Homo sapiens: one gene and its partner. The protein of the gene in region 1 binds, or shares a complex with, the protein of each later gene. Each region holds a gene or a part of one and is shown in the gene's direction. Other genes may lie near its edges.

The links. The genes of interacting proteins can lie anywhere in the genome.
Region 2: HERPUD1 (region 1) and OS9 share a complex: the UniProt entries of both Homo sapiens proteins name them as parts of the HRD1 complex.

Annotation. Positions count from the first base shown.
Region 1 is NC_000016.10:56,935,142-56,942,141, forward strand, and holds part of HERPUD1 (homocysteine-responsive endoplasmic reticulum-resident ubiquitin-like domain member 1 protein), read left to right. Parts: intron 1-93; coding exon 94-171; intron 172-259; coding exon 260-334; coding exon of another isoform or gene 335-336; exon of another isoform or gene 337-350; coding exon of another isoform or gene 351-356; intron 357-1,545; coding exon 1,546-1,676; intron 1,677-4,095; coding exon 4,096-4,218; intron 4,219-4,753; coding exon 4,754-5,104; exon of another isoform or gene 5,105-5,260; intron 5,261-5,724; exon of another isoform or gene 5,725-6,990; coding exon 6,991-7,000. UniProt on the Homo sapiens protein: Component of the endoplasmic reticulum quality control (ERQC) system also called ER-associated degradation (ERAD) involved in ubiquitin-dependent degradation of misfolded endoplasmic reticulum proteins.
Region 2 is NC_000012.12:57,689,413-57,697,144, forward strand, and holds the start of OS9 (protein OS-9 isoform 1 precursor), read left to right. Parts: upstream 1-4,719; 5' UTR 4,720-4,749; coding exon 4,750-4,911; intron 4,912-5,337; coding exon 5,338-5,514; intron 5,515-6,367; coding exon 6,368-6,431; intron 6,432-6,549; coding exon 6,550-6,626; intron 6,627-6,862; coding exon 6,863-6,961; intron 6,962-7,732. UniProt on the Homo sapiens protein: Lectin component of the HRD1 complex, which functions in endoplasmic reticulum (ER) quality control and ER-associated degradation (ERAD).

The DNA of each region.
Region 1 (7,000 bases):
ATTCAAATTACTTGTATAAAACAGTTTATTCTGTGTTTAGGAACTTGTAGGGGTGAAATGCTGACCTGTGTTACTCTTTCTTTCCATGATCAGCGTCCAGAGGACCAGAGGTTAATTTATTCTGGGAAGCTGTTGTTGGATCACCAATGTCTCAGGGACTTGCTTCCAAAGGTACATCACTTACACATTAACTTCTGAATGTTTTTAAGCACTCACCAGGTTAGGTTCAGGTCCTTAAGTACCTTCGTATTACTTTTAGCAGGAAAAACGGCATGTTTTGCATCTGGTGTGCAATGTGAAGAGTCCTTCAAAAATGCCAGAAATCAACGCCAAGGTGTGTCTGCCTCTTCATGATGGTAACAATTTGTATCATTCAGACTTTCAGGGGAGTAATAAAAGAAGTTGGATAAAACGTTTATTGAGAGACTGTATGGTGTTATTACCAAGTAATATTTTGTTTCTTTCCTAGGAATTAGAAACTGTATTATCAACACAAAGTGATGAGTTAATAGTAGCAGATTGTTCCGTTAGTGCTGTAGTAGAAAGGTGGAGTTACATATTGCACTATCTTATGGGATATGATTTGATCTATGGTTACTGTGTATCTAGATTACTGAACTAACACTAATCGGGTTTTTATTGAATTTAGCACATAGCAAGTTTCTTCAAAGGAGTCACTAATTTTTATAAAGAGTACAAAAGTGAATATATTTCCTTTGGAAATTTTCATTGTGATTAGTTGGATAGGAAAAGATCAGAGTTTTTATCAAGTGATCTTTAAAGAATTTTTTTTTTTTAAAAATGGTCTCGCTGTGTGGCCCAGGCTTTTCTCAAACTCCTGAGGGCAAGCGATCCTCCCACCTCAGCCTCCTGAGTAGCTGGGACTACAGGCATGTGCCACTAGACCTGGCTCTAAAGACATATATGACACACGAAACCATTTATTTTTCATTTCACAATGTTTATTCACATATATGGTATTAGTATTCTAATGTAGTGATGCACTCTAAATTTGCATTATATTTCCTAGAACATCTGAACAGAGCATAGGAAATTCCCTATTTTGCCATTATCAGTTCTAACAAAAATCTTAAAAGCACTTTATCATTTCATTTCCCTGCACTGTAATTTTTTTAAATGATCAAAAACAGTATCATACCAAGGCTTACTTATATTGGAATACTATTTTAGAAAGTTGTGGGCTGGGTTGTATTTATAAATCTTGTTGGTCAGATGTCTGCAATGAGTAAATTTAGCACCATTATCAGGAAGCTTTCTCACCAATGACAACTTCATTGGAAGATTTTAATGAAAGTGTAGCATACTCTAGGGAAAAAATATGAATATTTTAGCATCTATGTATTGAAAATTATGTTGAATAAATGTCAGACTATTTTTTACATAACGTTGCTTCTGTTTAATTTTGTCACGTTCAGAGGTGGGGGGTAGGAGATGTAAGCCCTTGACAGCAAAATAATTCCTTTTGCTTGATTTCAGACAGTTGCATCAGCTCCTTTGTTCTGTGTTCATGTTACACTTATTTAGGTGGCTGAATCCACAGAGGAGCCTGCTGGTTCTAATCGGGGACAGTATCCTGAGGATTCCTCAAGTGATGGTTTAAGGCAAAGGGAAGTTCTTCGGAACCTTTCTTCCCCTGGATGGGAAAACATCTCAAGGTGAGTGTTATAATAAAGATCTTGGCTTATGCAACATGAATGTTCCTCGTTTGCATCAATTTAAGAATAAGGTATGTTTACACGTATATAATCAGAACTTTTAAACATACAGAATTTTGCTTTATAAATAGCTTCGCTTTAAAGATCTCTTATATATTTAACTTTTCTTAATACACAGCCTTTTAGTACACACAAATTTAAAAAGTAGGTAATGCATATATTGAAAAAAAAAAGAAAATGTAGGCGTTTTATCCTTCCATTGTGCTGACCGCTTGGTTGCCGTCATGATAGGAAATTAGTGCTGCTGCAGGAGAAAACAGCTGTCGTAAGCATTGTGCAGCTGCTTTGCTGAGTGGCTTTGTGCTTTATTGTAACAATGGGTGACAACAAGGGAGAGACTGTTTAAGAAGTGTCCTTCCAAAGACTTGGGGGTACTAGGAAAATTGGCCAATTTCTTATAACTATTAAAGCTTTTCTTTAGAGCAAAAGTCAGAACTAAATGCTCTGTTATTTGGATTTTTATAGCTCTTGGAATACATTGTTTTTGGGGAAAAATTCATTAACTGCAAGTTGCAATTCTGTAACTCTCCAATTCTCCGTCCCCCTTTTTCTAGTACTTTTTATACACAATATTTTATAAAGCCAGGTGTTTTAGGAATGAGTTTTTCTTCCTTTTCCCCCTTAATGGAACTTTCAAATATACACAACAGTGGGGACTGGATAATTAATCCCCACACCATCACCCAGGCCTAATAAATAACAATCAGAGTTTTACCATAGCTCATCTATTACCCTTTCCCTTTTTTTTAAAAAAAGAGTATTTAAAAGTAATTCCCAGGCATCATGTTATTTCATCCCTATATTCTTCAGTATATAACTATGAAAACCTTTTAGTTATCTTGTATATCTAGAATGCCATTATCAGATCTAACAGAAATCTTAAAAGCACTTTATCATTTTATTTCCATGCACTGTAATTTTCTTAAATGATCAAAAACAGCATCATACCAAAGCTTACTTGTATTGGAATACTATTTTAGAAATACTCTGTGTATGGAATTTAGTTAAAAGATTGTCAGCATATAAATTGGATAATTATTGGATAGAAAATTATTGGTTAGAAAAACTTAAAACTACTTCCCTTATTCTGATTCAACTATTCTTAACTTGAGAATTGAGGCTCATATTTGACTCTCTGAATCTCACCATATTTAAACTTGATTTCCTTTAACAAATATTTATTGAACAGCCAGTACATACAACTTTGCTTAAGGATATGAGTTGACCTGCAGGAATGACCACATAACCAATTTCTGATCTTTGGGCAATTCTATTATGGTTTCAATTTTGTGATGTGCTACTGAAGAAATTGACTGTGTAAGAAGCACAAAGCCAAAGATGACTCGCATACACCTGCCCTGTGAAGTTGAGGGCTGTGTGGCCTGATTAAAGAAGCATGCATTTGGCCGGGCGCGGTGGCTCACACCTGTAATCCCAGCACTTTGGGAGGCCAAGGTGGGCGGATCACGAGGTCAGGAGATTGAGACCATCCTGGCTAACACGGTGAAACCCCGTCTGTACTAAAAGTACAAAAAATTAGCCAGGTGTGGTGGCGTGTGCCCGTAGTCCCAGCTACTGGGGAGGCTGAGGCAGGAGAATGGTGTGAATCCGGGAGGTGGAGCTTGCAGTGAGCCGAGATTGCGCCATTGCACTCCAGGCTGGGCAACAGAGCGAGACTCCATCTCAAAAAAAAAAAAAAAGAAGCATGCATTTGACATCAGACCAGCTCTGAAATCCAGCCCTGCTACTTACTAGCTCAGTGACCTTGTGCAAAGCCCCTGTCTTCCCTGAGCTGTACTTGGGTTCCCCTTGTAAAATCTCCTTCATGAGATTGCTGTGGACCCAGCAGCCTGTACAGGACCCCCGGTGGTCAGTAAGCATGCACAGGTGATACCACATGCACACTTCACTATAGATTCAGATGGAGGATGGAGGAAGAAGTGGATATTGGGAGGATGGGAGAGATTTCCTTCAGGAAAGACTGGGAGAAATGTGGCTTTTGAGCTGCTCTCTAAAAGATGAACAGTGGGTTGAGACCTGCAGTGAGACTCAACAAGTCAAAACTGAGGTGGGATCTACTTAACCCAAAAAGGTTGTTTATATATCTGTGCACTCAGCAAGCAGGTGGCAAGGGCTGTTGTTTTCCTGTGGGATGGGACTGTGGTAGAAGTGCTGTGTCATTTAGTACCTTCTGTGCTTGTGGTACATGGGTGCGTCATACAGTCATTTACCATGTAACTGCCGTAAATTCCATTCTTCTGTCTCTTCGATTTGAATTCTTGATTTTAATTTAAACTTAGTTTTCATTTGTTCATACTCAACCCACTCAAAATGAGTGTTTTTTCAAATCTATGTATAGGCCTGAAGCTGCCCAGCAGGCATTCCAAGGCCTGGGTCCTGGTTTCTCCGGTTACACACCCTATGGGTGGCTTCAGCTTTCCTGGTTCCAGCAGATATATGCACGACAGTACTACATGCAATAGTGAGTCCTTCCCGCCATGCTGGGTGTGGCCAGGGCTCCCGGGAATTGAAGGGAATTTTATCCATGTTACCTGTAAAGTTCAGAATGGAGGGATGAGTGTATTTTCATCAGTCTGCAGAGCCCTGCTCTGTTTGGTCTGTGGGTAGAGTGTAAATGACAGCTGCTACCTGATTTGTGTATTGACACAAGGGTGCTTTTGTCTGATACATAGTTTAGTGACTTTATTTAGAACATGTTACTTTCTTTTCAATTTGTGCTATCTTCAAAGTTTTGTGAGGATTTTAATTTGCTACTGTGCCATAATCTTACAGTGGGCTTGATGTTTAATTTCAGGTGAAATTCACCTTGTGGCTTTTCTTAGAAAAGGCATTTATAGATATAGTTAGTAAGGAAGTTCTTCACTAAATTGAAGAAAAATCAAAGGCATATCTACCTACTTGAAATTCTTAACAGTAAAAGACTGCTGTGTAAATAAGCCACAGACTTCACGGTGCTTTGGTCTCAACAGTATCTGCCTCTGTCGTTTTTATTTTAGTTTAGCAGCCACTGCTGCATCAGGGGCTTTTGTTCCACCACCAAGTGCACAAGAGATACCTGTGGTCTCTGCACCTGCTCCAGCCCCTATTCACAACCAGTTTCCAGCTGAAAACCAGCCTGCCAATCAGAATGCTGCTCCTCAAGTGGTTGTTAATCCTGGAGCCAATCAAAATTTGCGGATGAATGCACAAGGTGGCCCTATTGTGGAAGAAGATGATGAAATAAATCGAGATTGGTTGGATTGGACCTATTCAGCAGCTACATTTTCTGTTTTTCTCAGTATCCTCTACTTCTACTCCTCCCTGAGCAGATTCCTCATGGTCATGGGGGCCACCGTTGTTATGTACCTGTAAGCAGATGGTTTCTCTAATATAAATTACACTACACTGTGTTCACACTAAGCAGATTTTGCTCTTTTTGTTTCTTGTTTTTTTTGAGATGGAGTCTCGCTCTGTCATTCAGGCTGGAGTACAATGGCACAATCACTGCAATCTCCGCTTCCCAGGTTCAAGCGATTCTCCTGCCTCAGCCTCCTGGGTAGTTGGGATTACAGGCGCCCACCACCATGCCTGGCTAATTTTTATATTTCTAGTAGAGACGGGGTTTGGTCATGTTGGCCAGGTGGTCTCGAACTCCTGACCTCAAGTGATCTGCCCACCTTGGCCTCCCAAAGTGCTGGTATTACAGGCGTGAGCCACCACTGCGCCTGGCCAGATTTTGCTCTTTTTTGAGCAGTCTCAGTTACTGTAGAAGGAGATGTGTTTAAATAGTATATCACTCTGTGGCTGGGCGCAGTGGCTCACACCTGTAATCCCAGCAGTTTGGGAGGCCGAGGCAGGAGGATCACATGAGGCCAGGAGTTTGAGACCATCCTGGCCAATATGGTGAAACCCCGTCTCTACTAAAAATACAAAAAATTAGCCGGGTGTGGTGGCACGGGCCTGTAATTTACTTGGGTGGCTAAGGCAGGAGAATTGCTTGAACTGGGGAGGCAGAGGTTGCAGTGAGCCAAGATCGCACCACTGCACTCCAGCCTGGGTGACAGAGCAAGACCCTGTCTTAGAATAAATACATAATAAATAGTATGTATTCTGGCACTTTCGATACAAGGAATTCATGGCTTGGTTGTATGGTCCCAAGAACATATCAATCCTGTGTTAATATAAGAATATTATCTTGTCCTCTAGATAAGCTACCTTACCTTCCAGGCTCACAAACCACAAGTATGTAGCCATACTGAGGCATGGAACAGAAAACTGTATTTGTTTTGAATGAGAACACATTTGCCTTTATCAGACCACAGCTGCCTTCCAGGGTAAAGTCAGGCACTGACTGTTAGCATGGCCCTGAAAGGCAAGGGAACCTTCACATACCTGACATTTGGTTTTAGCTGTGGCCCGAAGCAGTAGTTCTCAACTGGGGGTGGTTTTGTACCCTCTCTCCCCAGGGGACATTTGGCAATGTGTAGATATTTTTGGTTGTCACATCTAGGGGAAGTGGTCCTGCTGGCGTCTAGTTAGTAGAAGCAAGAGTGCTGCTGAATTTTCTACAATGCACAGGACAACTCCCACAGTAAATATTTGGCTCAATATGTCACTAGTGCCAAAGCTGAGAAAGCCTGGCCTAGAGTGATGGGTCTTCGTGGTTGAAACTAAAAGAAGAAATTTTCCTGTATAGTAAAAATGGATTTTTATTTTAGCTTTTAAAAATAAAAAAGGAATAATTAGAATATAATGAACACTCAAATATCCACAATTAGTCATTGTTAATATTTTATTATATTTAAGACTTGGGATTTAATTGGTTTCTTCAAATAAAACGTTTAGTTAATATTTTCTGTAGTCTCTAGAATCATATATTTAAAAGACCAAATGTAGGTTGTCATTATGTTATATATAATTATAGCTTTGTAGGTATATGCATTCTCCCCGCTCTGTTCAGGTTTTCAAGGGTAAGGTTTAGTTCGTCATAAGCATTTATTGAGTGCATACTATGTGCCAGGTGCTGTTTATATGGCTGGGTGTGCAATGATGAATAAAACACAGTCCCTGCCTTCAAGGACCTTACAGACTGGTGAGAATGTCTGGGAGACAGTGTGATCAAATGCCTCTGTAGATGGGTCTTGCAGTGAGCTTATCAGGGTGCTGCTGTGATTAGAGGTGGGGAGCCTTGGATTCTTGAGTAAGTCTCACTGTGACATCAGCTAAGATGGACTTTTATGTGCTTCCTTTGAAGGCATCACGTT
Region 2 (7,732 bases), on another chromosome or scaffold:
AATCTATGCATCTAACAAAATTGCACTTGCATTCCACAAATTTATACAAAAATAATGTTGAATCAAAAAACATTATAGTTTGGTGGAACATAGAATTATAGGTTGGAAATAATTTCCCTAAAAAATTTGAAGATATTTTATATTATTTTCTAGCTCCCAATGTATTTTTTCTTTTTTAAGAGACAGGGTCTCACTCTGTCACCCAGGCTGGTGTGCAGTGGCGTGATCATGGCTGACTGCAGCCTTGACCTCCTGGGCTCAAGCAATACTCCCACCTCAGCCTCCCAAGAAGCTGGGATCACAGGCACTCGCTACCATGCCCTACTATTTTTTTTAAATTTTTTTTTGTAAAGATGCAGTCTCCCTATGTTGCCCTGGCTGGTCTCAAACTCTTGGGCTCAAGTGATCCTCCCATCTTGGCCTCCCAAAGTGCTGGGATTAGAGGAGTGAGCCACCACACTCATTCCTCCCAATGTTGATGAGTTTGTAAGCCCAATGCTGTTCTGATAAGGAATCAATTAAATACAATTAAAAATTTTATTTTTGTGTGGGCACACAGTGGTGTATATATGTATATATTTATGGGGTACATGAGATACTCTGATACAGACATGCAATAAGTAATAATCACATCATGAAAAATGGAGTATCCATCCCCTCAAGAATTTATCCTTTGTGTTACAAACAATCCGATTATACCCTTTTAGTTATTTTAAAATGTACAATTAAATTATTATTGACTATAGTCACCCTGTTATGCTATCACATACTAGGTCTTTTTCATTATTTCTATGTTTTATACCCATTAGCCATCCCCACTTCTCCTCAACCCCACACTACTCTTCCCAGCCTTTGGTAACCATCCTTCTACTCTCTATCTCCGTGAGTTCAACTGCTTTGGTTTTTAGCTCTCACAAATAAGTGAGAACATGCTAAGTTTGTCTTTCTGTGCCTGGCTTATTTCATATGACATAATGACCTCCAGTTTCATCCACGTTGTTGCGAGTTACAGGATCTCATTCTTTTTCATGGCTGAATAGTAAGTACTCCTATGTGTATACGTACTACATTTTTTTAAATCCATCTGTTGATGGACACTTAGTTTGCTTCCAAATTTTAGCTATTGTGAATGGTGCTGCAACAAAAATGGGAGTACAGATATCATTTCGATATACTGATTTCCTTTCTTTTGGGTATATACCCATCAGTGGGATTGCTGGATTGTATGGTAGCTCTATTTTTAGTTTTTTGAAGAAATTCCAAACTGTTCTCCATAGTGGTTGTACTAATTTACATTCACACCAACAGTGTACGAGGGTTCCATTTTCTCCACATCCTCTCCAACATTTGTTATTGCCTGTCTTTTGGATAAAAGCCATTTAAACTGGGGTAAGATGATATCTCATTGTAGTTTTGATTTGCATTTCTCTGATGATCAATTATGTTGAGTACCTTTTCATACACTTGTTTGCCATTTGTATGTCTTCTTTTGAGAAATGTCTATTCAGATCTTTTGCCCATTTTTAAATCAGATTATTAGATTTTTTTTTCTTTTGTTTGTGCTCCTTATATATTCTGGTTATTACTCCCTTGTCAGACAAGTAGTTTGCAAATATTTTCTCCCATTCTGTGGCTTGTCTCTTCACTTTGTTGTTTTCTTTGCTGTGCAGAAGCTTTTTAACTTGATGTGATCCTGTTTGTCCATTTTTGCTTTGGTTACCTGTGCTTGTGGGGTATCTCAAGAAATTTTGCCCAGGCCAATGTCCTGGAGAGGCTCCTCAATGTTTTCTTGTAGTAGTTTAATAGTTTCAGGTCATAGATTTAAGTCTTTTTTTTTTTTTTTTTTTTTTTTTTTTTTTTGAGACAGAGTCTCGCTCTGTCACCCAGGCTGGAGTGCAGTGGCGCGATCTCGGCTCACTGCAAGCTCGGCCTCCCAGGTTCATGCCATTCTCCTGCCTCAGCCTCCCGGATAGCTGGGACTACAGGTGCCTGCCACCACACCTGGCTAATGTTTTGTATTTTTAGTAGCGACAGGGTTTCACCGTGTTAGCCAGGATGGTCTCAATCTCCTGACCTCGTGATCCACCCACCTCGGCCTCCCAAAGTGCTGGGATTACAGGCATGAGCCATTGCGCCCAGCCAGATTTAAGTCTTTAAGCCATTTTGATTTGATTTTTATATATGGTAAGAGATAGGGGTCAAGTTTTATTCTTCTGCATAGGGATATCCAGTTTTCCCTGTATCATTTATTGAAGAAACTGTCTTTCCCCCAGTGTCTGTTCTTGGCACCTTTGTCAAAAATGAGTTCAATACAGATATATGGATTTGTTTCTGGATTCTGGATTCCATTCCATTGGTCTGTGTCTGTTTTTATGCCAGTACCATGCTGTTTTGATTATTATAGCTCTGCAGTATAATTTGAAGTCAGGTAATGTGATTCCTCCAGTTTTGTTCTTTTTGCTCAGGATAGCTTTGGCTATTCTAGGTCTTTTGTGGTTCCATTCTAGGTCTCTTAGGGTTGTTTTTTCTATTTCTGTTAAGAATGTCATTGGTATTTTGATAGGGATTGCATTGAATCTATAGATTGCTTTGGGTAGCAATGGTGTTCTGATTCTTAATCCTAATGTTATACTGATTTTTAAAAAATGTATTAACAAAGCAACAACATGAAGTCACATGTTCTGATTTTTTTTGTCTGTATATGCAACTTGTTCTTTCTCTCTGGAAGCTTTTAGAATTTTTTTCTCTGTGTCCAGTACTCTGAGATTCTATAATGATGTGTCTTGGTGTGGGTTTGATTTGTTGTTCTGGATACTTAGGGTGCCTGTTCAATTTGGAGACTGTTCTTCAGTTTGGGATAGTCCTTTTAAATAGTTTTTTTGATGATCTCTTCTGATTCTCTGTTCTCTTTCTGGAACTCTAATTTAGAACTCTTATTTAGTCCAGACCTTCTGGACTGATCCTTTATTTTTATGTTTTCTCCTAAAGCAGAACAAATTTGATCTTCTTCAACTTTATCCCCCAGCCTTTTTATAGAATTTTTATTTCTGTAACATGGTTTTAGTTTCCAAGAGCTCTTTTTGCTTATCCGAATAGTAGTTACTCTCAAGTAGTTTCCTGTTGTTATTTTATGAATGCTCTATAATATCTCTTTGAGAAGTCTGATGATGGATTATTTTTAAATGCTTTGTTGTTTCAGACGGAGTCTAGCTCTGTGGCCCAGGCTGGAATGCAGTGCCGCAATCTCAGCTCACTGCAACTTCCGCCTCCCAGGTTCAATCAATTCTTCTGCCTCAGCCTCCTGAGTAGCTGGAACTATAGGCGCGTGCCACCATGCCCAGCTAATTTTCGTATTTTTAGTAGATACGGGGTTTCACCACGTTAGCCAGGCTGGTCTTGAGCTCCTGACCTCAAGTGATCCGCCCGTCTCGGACTCCCACAGTTTTGGGATTACAGGCGTAAGCCACCGTGCCCGGCCTATTTTTAAATTTTTTATTTTTAGTGTTTTTTCCCCTCCCTTGCAATTTATGTTTCCTCTCATTTGCTTTTCCCTTCTTGTTTGTTTCTTACTTGTATATTAAAGTCCTTCCTTAAATGTCTAATGATCTCTGGCTATTTATTTTGAAGAGTAAGAACACTAAAAAGCTGATTGGAAAGTGGAATGAGGGCTGGGGCACGTAGGCCAAAGTGTTACATGTGGAATTCATTCTAGTTATCTATATCATTAAGAGAACTCTGATAAGGGTATCTTTGGGATTTTTCGTTTTGGCTGGTGAGATTCCCCAGAGAGGGTTTTCCAAAGGTATAATCAGCCTCTTGTTTACCTTTGTTTCGTAATAAATATTCTCAAGTTTGCTAAACCAGTTAACATTCTTCTGTTTGATTTCCAGCTTCCAAAATGTTGCTGTTGTTGTCTCCTTTCCCTTTCTTACGGCCTGGAGAGTAATACATAATTTCACCTTAACTGGAAGCCCATGTATGCATGTATGTATGTATGTATGTATGTATGTATGTATGTATGTATGTACGTACTTATTTGAGACGGGGTTTCGCTGTGTTGCGCAGGCTGCACTTGAACTCCTGGGCTCAGGAGATCCTCCTGCCTCAGCCTCCGGAGTAGCTGATACCACAGGTGCGTGCCACCACGTCTGGCTGCCCGCATTATTTCTCTAGGATTTTTACTGGAGGTCATTTTACTGGAGGTCAACTGCAGGATCGTATAGGAAGGTTTTGACACAAATTTTCTGATTGCCTCAAAGCAATATGTATATATGAAAAGAGGTAAGCGTCCGTATAATAATTGTTTGTTTTGCAACAAGCATTTAATAACTTTCACCGGCACTGCGCACGCTACCTATCTGCCTCAATACTCCGCCCGGCGGTGGGCAGGATATAATGCAAGAGACGTCTGAAAAAGCAATGAGATGCGCATGACAGCTGGGCGAAGACAGAGGGCAAACTTAAAAGGACCAAGCGCATAGACCACGCCTCTGAAATTGGGGAACGAGGAGGGGTTTGATCTTGTCGATGATTGGCTGGTCTCTGACCAATCACGGACAGCGATTGATATTTCTAATCGTCGTGATCCACCTCCCCAGGACCTTGGAGCCACGTTTACAAATAGGAATAGGGTACGTGGGAGGGATAGAACGTACAGCCAATAAAATCATGTGGCGCCGATGGGCGTGTTGAGGCCGCTGCCTGGCTTAGGGCGGAAACAGATTCTCTGCATAAGAAGGGGAACGAAAGATGGCGGCGGAAACGCTGCTGTCCAGTTTGTTAGGACTGCTGCTTCTGGGACTCCTGTTACCCGCAAGTCTGACCGGCGGTGTCGGGAGCCTGAACCTGGAGGAGCTGAGTGAGATGCGTTATGGGATCGAGATCCTGCCGTTGCCTGTCATGGGAGGGCAGGTGAGAGGCGTATAAGGGGCGAGGGTCTGGGCAGAAGAGGAAGCGGGTAAGAGATAGAGGAAGAAGGGCAGCTCCGGAGTCTGGGGCTGGAGCCTACGGGGAATCGGGAAGAGTAGGTATTGCTTTTACGGTGACCCCTGGGGGTCGCAGACTGAGACCAATTCTCTGGGGGCCAGGAATTGGGAGAGGTGGGGCTTCCCGCTGTCAACCTTCAGGTCTCAGTTTATGATCGAAACACCCGGACTCCGCCCCCGTGGAGAAATGGGAGCGCCCTCTCCTCTCACCCACTAAATACAGCTGGAGGGCTTATGGCTTATTCTGTCTTCGACTGATCTCTTCCCCAGGGTTTGAAGAGGGATTTCGTTGTTCTCCCTGATCCCAGCCTTTCTTTGCTTCCTTGCCCCCCGACCCTCCCTTCTTTCCCAGAGCCAATCTTCGGACGTGGTGATTGTCTCCTCTAAGTACAAACAGCGCTATGAGTGTCGCCTGCCAGCTGGAGCTATTCACTTCCAGCGTGAAAGGGAGGAGGAAACACCTGCTTACCAAGGGCCTGGGATCCCTGAGTTGTTGAGCCCAATGAGAGATGCTCCCTGCTTGCTGAAGGTGAAAGGGACTGGGTTAGATAGAATGAGGGCTTGGAAACTAGCAGTTCATCCAAGAACTGGAGTCCACTGAATGAGGCAGGATCTAGGGGACCTGTAGTGGTTAAGAAGACCACTGGAGGAGTAGACAGATTACACGGACAGGAAAGAAGCAAAGAATCCTGCAACCACTGATGACACTTTGCTGAACGTAGGAGCAGGTTAGGATAGAAGATCTCAGAAAAGGGCTAAAGCAAGATTGAGGGTCTGCGTGGGGTAGGAGGAGTACTTCCTTAAGCCTACTTGCTAAAGTCACCCCCTGCCCTATCACTCTGCTCCAGTATCCTGTTTTATTTTCATCGTAGCACTTTTCATGATCTGAAATCATATTTACTGAATCAGTTTGTTTATTTTCGGTCTGATTCCCCGCATTAGAGTGTAAACTCCATGAGGTCAAAGAATTAATCTTGTTCACAGTTGTATTCCCAGTGGCCAGAACAGTGCCAGGAATGTTCAAGAAGTTCAATTAATATTTAATTTTGGGTTCTTCTATGTTTCCCTAATATAATTGCTTCAGGGATACCATAATTTCTTATCTTTATGGAGGGCAAATAAGGATTTAAAAAATCTTTTAAAAGGGAGGAATGGAAAGACCACAAGTGGAAAACAGACTTTAGAGATATCTCTCCAAGTCACAGAAGGAAAGCAGCCCTCCCTCCTTACTGAAAGTCTGGAGAATTGAGAGTGGAAGTGAAGGGAAGAGAATTGAGTGTGTAAGTAGATGAGAGGTTATGTGTCTTGGAGCCAGGAGACTCTGGTTCCAAGAAAAGATGTCTGCACTCCATCCCCCTGATTGTTTATTTTTTAATTGTCAGACAAAGGACTGGTGGACATATGAATTCTGTTATGGACGCCACATCCAGCAATACCACATGGAAGGTAACTCACTCCTATATTTTCCTTAAGCCCTTAGTGTCATATCATGGAAGTTCCCCAGTTCCCTCCTCCTCCTCCTCCTCTTAAGAGTAACAGTGCTTCACTGTGGCTTCCCTTGCAGATTCAGAGATCAAAGGTGAAGTCCTCTATCTCGGCTACTACCAATCAGCCTTCGACTGGGATGATGAAACAGCCAAGGTGGCAAGAGTGTGGGATTCAGGAAGAAAGGGTTCTGGCCACCGGCTGAGAGCCCTGACAAGAAGGGGAGGGTCAAGATTAGCTGATCTGTTTCTTGGGGCTTGGTGGCCATTAGGACAAAGTTTCCTGGGGCCTGGGGGCACAGGCCATTCTTTTGTCTCTTTGGGGACGCAGTGCCATCCTTCCTCTTTGCTATCTTTCTCATGTCCCCCATTCCTGCCTCATGTCTTCTCCAGGCCTCCAAGCAGCATCGTCTTAAACGCTACCACAGCCAGACCTATGGCAATGGGTCCAAGTGCGACCTTAATGGGAGGCCCCGGGAGGCCGAGGTTCGGGTGAGTCTTGAGAGAGGGAAGTTGACACTCCCACAGGGACAGTTCAGATTCTAAGGGAAGAGGGTTGCATCTTATAGTCGGGGCGGGGGCGGGGGGGGTCCCCTCCCAGACCCTAAATCCAAAGTTTAAAACATATTTCCAGCCGGGCGCAGTGGCTTATGCCTGTAATCCCAGCACTTTGGGAGGCCGAGGCGGGCAGATCACCTGAGGTCAGGAGTTCAAGACCAGCCTGACCAATATGGTGAAACCCCATCTCTACTAAAAATACAAAAATTAGCCGGGCGTGGTAGCGGGTGCCTATAGGCCCAGCTACTCGGGAGGCTGAGACAGGAGAATTGCTTGAACCTGGGAGGCGGACGTTGCAGTGAGCCGAGGTCGTGCCACTGTGCTCCAACCTGGGTGACAGAGTGAGACTCTGTCTCAAAAAAGAAAAGAAAAAAAAAAACCCACATTATTTCCAGGCCGGGCACGGTGGCTCACGCCTGTAATCCCAGCACTAGATATCTCTCAAAACTCTCCTATGCTTTCTTGTGGTCGGTACCTTCACTCTCGCCTGCATCCCTGCAAACAGCTTCTTTACAAGTGCTTCTCATCTAGTGGTCCTTAGCTGAGTGGAGGCAGGCAAATATAGAATGCAAAAAGTTCCTTGGGTGATTCTCATGTATTCACAAATATACACACCTGTAAAGAATTACATGACACCTGCCAGAGTTATCTTTCCATAATGCAGATTTGTACCTGCAGTTGTGTGCTGGTAAGTGTTGGACCCCC